Homo sapiens: one gene and its partner. The protein of the gene in region 2 purifies or fractionates together with the protein of the main gene of each other region. This does not show direct contact. Each region holds a gene or a part of one and is shown on either strand. Other genes may lie near its edges.

Region 1 (3,500 bases), on a different chromosome or scaffold from region 2:
CTCCCTTTAGGTCCCACAATCTCAAAGATTTAGCTTGTCCAAGGTGGACAACATTTCATAGGACGTACACGTCAATATGCATGATTCATTTACCTATACCTCATGGAGCAAAACAGAGACTCTTGGCCTGGCGCAGTGGCTCACACCTGTAATCCCAGCACTTTGGGAGGCTGAGGCGGGCGGATCACTTGAGGTGAGGAGTGAGAAACCAGCCTGGCCAACATGACGAAACCCCGTCTCTACTAAAAATACATAAAATAGCTAGGTGTAGTGGTGCATGCCTGTAATCCCAGCTACTCAATTTAGGAGGTTGAGGTACAAGAATCGCTTGAACCTGGGACGGAGGTTGCAGTGAGCTGAGATGGATCACGCCACTGCACTCCAGCCTGGGTAATAAAGGGAGACTCTATCTAAGAAAAAAAAAAAAAAGAGAGACTCTTAAAGATGGGATAACTTTTTTTCATTTTTAAAGAAACTGTAGGCCAGATGCAGTGGCTCATGCCTGTAATCTCAGCACTTTGGGAGGCCAAGACGGGCGGATCATGAGGTCAGGAGATCAAGACCATCCTGGCTAACACGCTGAAACCCCGTCTCTACTAAAAATATGAAAAAATTAGCCGGGCGTGGTGGCACGTGCCTGTAATCCCAGCTACTCGGGAAGCTGAGGCAGGAGAATGGCATGAACCCTGGAGGCAGAGCTTACAGTGGGCCGAGATTGCGCCACTGAACTCCAGCCTGGGCGACAGAGCGAGACTCCGTCTCAAAAAAAAAAAAAAAAAAAAAAAGAAAGAAAGAAAGAAACTATAGTGCTCTTTGTCCTGGGATGAACTGGATCCCTCCGAGTGAAGAGACAGCTGGTGGGGGCATTCCCAGCACACACCCCCAGACCCAGGCAGTTAGCTGCTCCCAGGAACCGGGCAGTCACACTCCACCAGGCTACACCCAGAGGTGCCATGGGGAGGCTGATGGAAGTGGTTTTAAGGACCAGTGCAGAAGAAATATCTGGCAATACCAGCACTCCTGCTGACTGTTGCTTTGTCTTTCTCTCAAGGAACTCAAGGGATAAGGTGGACAGAGACAAAGCTGCCATGGTCCAGTGCTCATAACTGAGGCTCTTGCCACAGGTAAAACAGGCAGAGAGCAGAGATTAGGATTAAAAACAGGGGAGGGAGTTGGGGAGGGAGGGCTACAGCACGGAGGCAAGAAGGACAAAACCCTGAACTTGCTGGCTGGATAGAGTCCCAGTGGGACCTGTATGGGGACAAGAAGAGAATGGCACCCTGCCAGTAAGTGGTCCCAGATGAAGAATCCCTGACCCAGGTCCCACCTCATTTAGCTCCAGAGGCAGATCCCAGAACCTGGAGCGATACTGCCCAGGCTGCTCCACCCTTTATTCACAAGTTGGTGACTCTGGGCAATGTCTTGACATCTCTGTAACATGCAGATGGCAGGAGGACCCATGTCACAGGGCCGCTGTGAGGATTAGATTAGTGAATCAGTGTATGGCAGCCCTCAGAACAGAGCCTGGCACACAGGAGAGGCTACAGAAGCACTTGGAGCTGCTGTTATTATTATCTGCCCACGTGCCCTGGTTAGAGGTCAGGGAGCCCTTCGGAAAGCAGCCTGGCCTCCTACAGCCTCTCCAGCGGCTGCCTTCGGAAGCAGAGAGACTTTCCAATGGAAATTCCCTTGCAGCTCTGTGCACAGGTTGCTGGCCCCTGGGGCCACGGACTCCGAGAACAATGCCTGGCTGTGCATTGCCGGCCCAGCCCTCTTCTGAAGAATCCCAGCAGCCAGGCCAGCAGTGTACCAGGAAGCCACACAGTGTGGCAAAAAGCCTGCCTGCCATTCTGCAAACCCCAGAGGCAGGAAGTCGAAGCACATCTGCAGAGGGTCCTCGCGACACCTGGCATGGAGGATGGCTAGCCAGTGTGAGTGGGAAGAATTTCTTTCTCTCAAGGCCTACTTTCAGGAGACTCTCTAGGTCCTTTTAGGAACAGAGCAGATGAGGGCAAACACACATCACTCACACCCACCCCCTTCCCTACCTTAACGCCACTCAGTCGTCCAGTCCCCAAGTCCCATCCACAAAGAGAAGAGCAAATCATTTGGCAGGGGCCCCTGGTATGAGGTGGCTTTGTAACATGAGCTGTGTGTCCGCAAACAACTAGGGCAAGACCATTAAGTTCATTACACCTGTCACTCTGCCAGCTGAGCTTCCAAATTGCCCAGATGAAAGTACATTATGCCCAAGGAGTGCCACCCAGGCCCTCCCAGGCCAGTACAGCCTTATCTATCGTAGACAATTTGTTCTCAGTGTCTGCACCTGCAGAAAGAACACAACTGTAAACAGCTTGAAACTTGGCTTTGAGATACTTTAGGCCCTGGGCAGCTAAGAACAAAGTTGAGGTCTCCTGGGAAGAAGCTAGGTGCCTGATTTCCCTGCTCAGAGGAAGAACGGGAGTGTGGACCAGAGGTGGGGCCAGGGCAGGGGAGGAGGCGGAGCAGCCTAGCAAAATAAAGGACACAGAGTTGCTCCTTGGATTCTACTGCCCTGCAGTAGAGCCAAAAATAAAAGCAAGGCACACCCTTTTCATTTCCGAACCGAGGCACAGAATTCTAGGCGGCAGGCAGAGGCCCTCTGCGCAGCTGCATGCACACCAGGCCCATGAGCGGCGCCCAGCCGGCCGCCGGCTGCAGAGTGCGTTTGCAGTGCAAGCGTGTTGCAGACAGCGGTAATTTATTTATCCCTGTCATGTAACATTAACAATCTGTCTGGAGCTTGGCAAGCACCAACTTGCACTGTCACATAAACTGTCTGACAAACTTAAAGTTTCGTAAATGCTTCTCTTTTTCCAGCAGACAATAAAGCATCCTTAAAAAAAAATAGTTGTCATCTTTTCTGTTCCTTTTCTCTCTTCCTCTTCCAAAAAAAAAAGGAAGAAAAAGAAAAAAAAACCAACAACAAAAGAACCCATGCAAACAGAAATGATCCCTCAGCAGGATCCTTAACCCTGAACAGCTCGACATTTTTCCGATGCCAAGTAAATGAGTAAATAAATGGATGGGGGGAGTGACGTTGTAGGAGACGGTTGAGAAGGGGGTACAGAGGAAAATCTGCAAAACAAAAGTACAGTCATTAAAAATTAATAAAGGGTGTGGACATCCAGACCCCACCCCCGTCTGCTCATGGGGATTGAGCCAGACATTCTGTGTCCTCGTTAAGTGGAGTCTGGCAGGCTGCCGGAGTGTTAGTGGGTTCTGGGAATGCCAATATATTAACCAGAGGACTTTTTGCATACCCTTTAGAGTTTTTATTCTAGAAAAGTCAACCATTTGGCACAGTGCAGCATTATTTTTGTCCGGGAAAGCTCGCAGCTGCCAATCAAGGGAGAAATTATATCTATGTTCTTTGTAATCTCCAAGACCTATCTGGAAAACAAGCTTGGTGGAAAGAAAAGTCTTCACAAAAACAGCTTAAAAGGCCAAAGTACCATTTT
Region 2 (3,500 bases):
ACTTGTCCATTTTATCTATTTTGTCCTACTTAGTGGAATAAAGTTGTTCCCAAAACTCCCTCATTATGCTTTTCATTTCTTCAGATCCTGTAGTGATAAAATCTTTCTTATTCCTGATACTAGTAATTTCTGTCTTCAATCTTTTAGTTCGGGTAGGAATTTATCAATTTTATTAATCTTCTCAAGAATCAGTGTTTGGTTTTACTGACTTTTCCCTGTTTTAGGAGGAAATACACACTGATTTTGATTCTAATCTTTATGCTTTCTTTTCTTCTCCTTACTTTGGAGTTTACTTATTCTTTTTTTCTAGTTCCTTAAGGTGAAGCTGAGTGACTGATATGAGGCCTTTCTTCTTTTTCTATTATGGGCATTCAACATAAAAACAAATCTCCCTACTGCTGTATCTGCATCCCACAAATAGCGGGATGGTGTTCTCATCTTCCCTTAGGTCAACATACGTTGAAACTAACCCTCCTTTTGTTTCTTCTTGACCATGGATTATCTGGAAGTGTATTACTTAGTTTCTAAACATTTGAGGGAATTTCCATATAGAATTCTGTTACTGATTTCTAATTTAATTTCATTGTAGTCAGAGATTGTATTTTACATGATCTAAAGTATTTTAAATGTGTCAATACTTGCTTTGTGGCCTAGAAAATGGTCTTTTTTGATAAATAGTCTGCGTGTGCTTGAATGTCTATTTTGCTGTTCTAGGGTGGTATGTACTATAAATGTCAATTAGGTCATATTGGTTGATGGCATCATTCAAGTCTTCCATATTCTTGCCAAATTTCTTTTTATTTGTTCTACAAATTATTTAGAGAAGGCCATTAAAATTTCTAACTATACTGTAGATTTGTCTATTTTTCCTAAAGTTCTATCAGTTGTATTTCATATTTTTGAAGCTCTGTTATCTAAGTGCATAAATGTTCAGGGTTGCTACATCCTCTTGAAATATAGATCCCTTCTTCATTTAAAAATCCTTGTTTAACCTTGATAATATTCTTAGCATTCAAATATACTTTGATGTTATTACAGTCACACCAGCTTTCACTGACAAGTAGTAGCATCACATGTCCTTTTCCTATCTGTTAACTTTTAACCTCTTCGTTTCTTTATATTTAAGTAAATTTCTTGAAAGTAGCCTATAGTAGGGTCTTGCTTTGCTGTGCAATCTGACAGTTCTTGCTTTTCATTTGTGGTGTTTAGAGCTATATTCGTTTCCTATTGCTGCTATAACAAATTACCACAAACAGTTGCTTAAAGCAACATATATTTATTCTCTTTCAAAGTTTGGAGCTCGTAAGTCTAAAATCACAGTATTGGCAGGACTCCAATCCTTCAGGAGGCTCTAGAAGAAAATCCACTTCCTTGCTTTTTCCAGCCCTAGAAGCTGGCCTCCTTCCTTGGCTTGTGGCCTTATATCACTCCAACTTCTGCTTCTACCATCACATCGCCTTTTTGATCTCTTACTCGTTTGCCTCCTCCTTATAAAGACTTTGTGATTACATTTGTCCTACCTGGATAATAAGGATAATCTCCACATCTCATGAGCATTAATTTAATCACATTTGCAAATTTCCTTTTTCCATGTGAGTAACGTAATTCACAATTTCTGGGAATTAGGACATGGCCATCGTGGGGGGCTCATTATTCAGCCTACCACAAGTCCATTTACACTTAATGTGATAATTGATATGGTTAGATTTAAGTCTGTCATCTCAGTGTTTTCTTTGTTCCATCTGATCTTCATCTCCCTTTTCCACTTCTTCTGCCTTATTTTGGATTGAGTGATTTTTATAATTCCATGTTAATCTTGTTTGTTGCCTTTTGGGTTCTGTCAATTTTTGCTTCATATATTTTGAAATTCTCTTTTAAGTTCATATGCACTCAAATTATTGTATCTTTCTCCTGTACTGAACTATTTTGCATTATAAAACATAGTCATTTCTAGTAATATTCTTTGTCTTAACATCTATCTTCTCTGATATTCATACATTTTTCACTTCAGCTTTTCTAATGTTTACTCACATGATATCTTTTCCATTCTTTTTCCTTCAGCCAATATACATATCTGTATTTAAAATGCACCTCTTGCAGGCAGTCCATAGATAGGTTTTGCTCTTGTATTCAGTTTGCCAATCTCCACCTTTTGTTTGGAAGAATTTAGTCCTCTTTCACTTTGAAATTACTGATATGGTTTGATATAGGCTTGCTATAGTGCTCTTTTGTTTTTTTAAAAAAACTTTTTATTTCAAGACATTTGGAGATCCACATTAAGTGAGAGATAATACAAGTAGCTCTTGTACAGTCTTTAGACAGTGTCCTCCACCATGGTAACATTTTGAACATTTGTATAATATCACAGCCAGATAATTCACATTGACAGAATGGTGAAAGAGAGCATTTCCATCACCACAGAGATCCCTTGTATAGCCACACATACTATACTCCCCCCACATTCCCACCCCACCCTAACCCCTCGCAACCACAAATCATCCATATCTATAATTTTGTCATTTGAAGACAGTTATACAAATGGAATCATACAGTATGTAACCTTTGGGGATTGTCTTTTCTTCATTCAAACAATTCTCTGGAGATTCATCCAGGATCTTGAGTGTATCAATAGTTTGACCCTATTGCTGAGCAGTATTCCATGGTATGAATAGATCACTATTATTTAATCATTCACCTTGCGAAAAACATCTGGGTTGTTTCAGGTTTAGGCTATTACAAATAAAGCTGCTATAGACATTTTTCTACAGAATTTTGTATGAACACAACTTTCCACCTTTCTGGGAAAAAATGCCCAATACAATTGCTGGGTCTTAGGTTAGTTATATGTTTAGGGTTTTTCCCCTTTTACTTTTACTTGACAAGTAATACTTGTACATATTTATGGAGTATAGAGTGATATTTCAATGCATAATTACAATGTGTAATGATCAAATCAGGGTAATTAGGCTATCCATCACCACAAACGTTTACCATCTGTTTGTGCTGGGAACATTCAAAATCCTCTGTTCTGGCTTTCTTGACATATAACGATAAATTACTGTTAACTAATATTCACTCTACAGTGCCAGAGAGCACTATAATTTATTCCTTCTATTTATCTGTAGTTTTGTATCTCTTAACCAACCTCTCCTTATCTTCTTCTCCTCCCTACCCTTCCCACTCAGCCTCTAATTACCACAATTCTACTCTACTTCTATGAGCTACTTCTTTGAGCTTCCACATGAGTGACAACATGGACTATTCATCTTTCTGTGGCTGACTTATTTCACTTAATGTATCCAGGCTTATCCATATCTAGGCTTGCCATTATGCTCTTTTTTTCCCCACTGTTTTATTTATTTTTTGAGTGGTTTTGATAGGGATGACAACAAGCATCTTTAACATATCATGATTTACTTACCATTTAAATTGGGTTATTTCTAGTAAATCGTACATTTCCACAGTTTACTCAATTTTTGTGCTACATGTATATTTAATTT

The links.
Region 1: the proteins of DPY19L2 (region 2) and LDLRAD4 purify together in Homo sapiens (co-immunoprecipitation; one large-scale study listed by IntAct). This does not show direct contact.

Annotation. Positions count from the first base shown.
Region 1 is NC_000018.10:13,221,760-13,225,259, reverse strand, and holds part of LDLRAD4 (low-density lipoprotein receptor class A domain-containing protein 4 isoform alpha 1), read right to left. Parts: intron 1-3,500. UniProt on the Homo sapiens protein: Functions as a negative regulator of TGF-beta signaling and thereby probably plays a role in cell proliferation, differentiation, apoptosis, motility, extracellular matrix production and immunosuppression.
Region 2 is NC_000012.12:63,563,994-63,567,493, forward strand, and holds part of DPY19L2 (probable C-mannosyltransferase DPY19L2), read right to left. Parts: intron 1-3,500. UniProt on the Homo sapiens protein: Probable C-mannosyltransferase that mediates C-mannosylation of tryptophan residues on target proteins. Required during spermatogenesis for sperm head elongation and acrosome formation. Also plays a role in acrosome attachment to the nuclear envelope.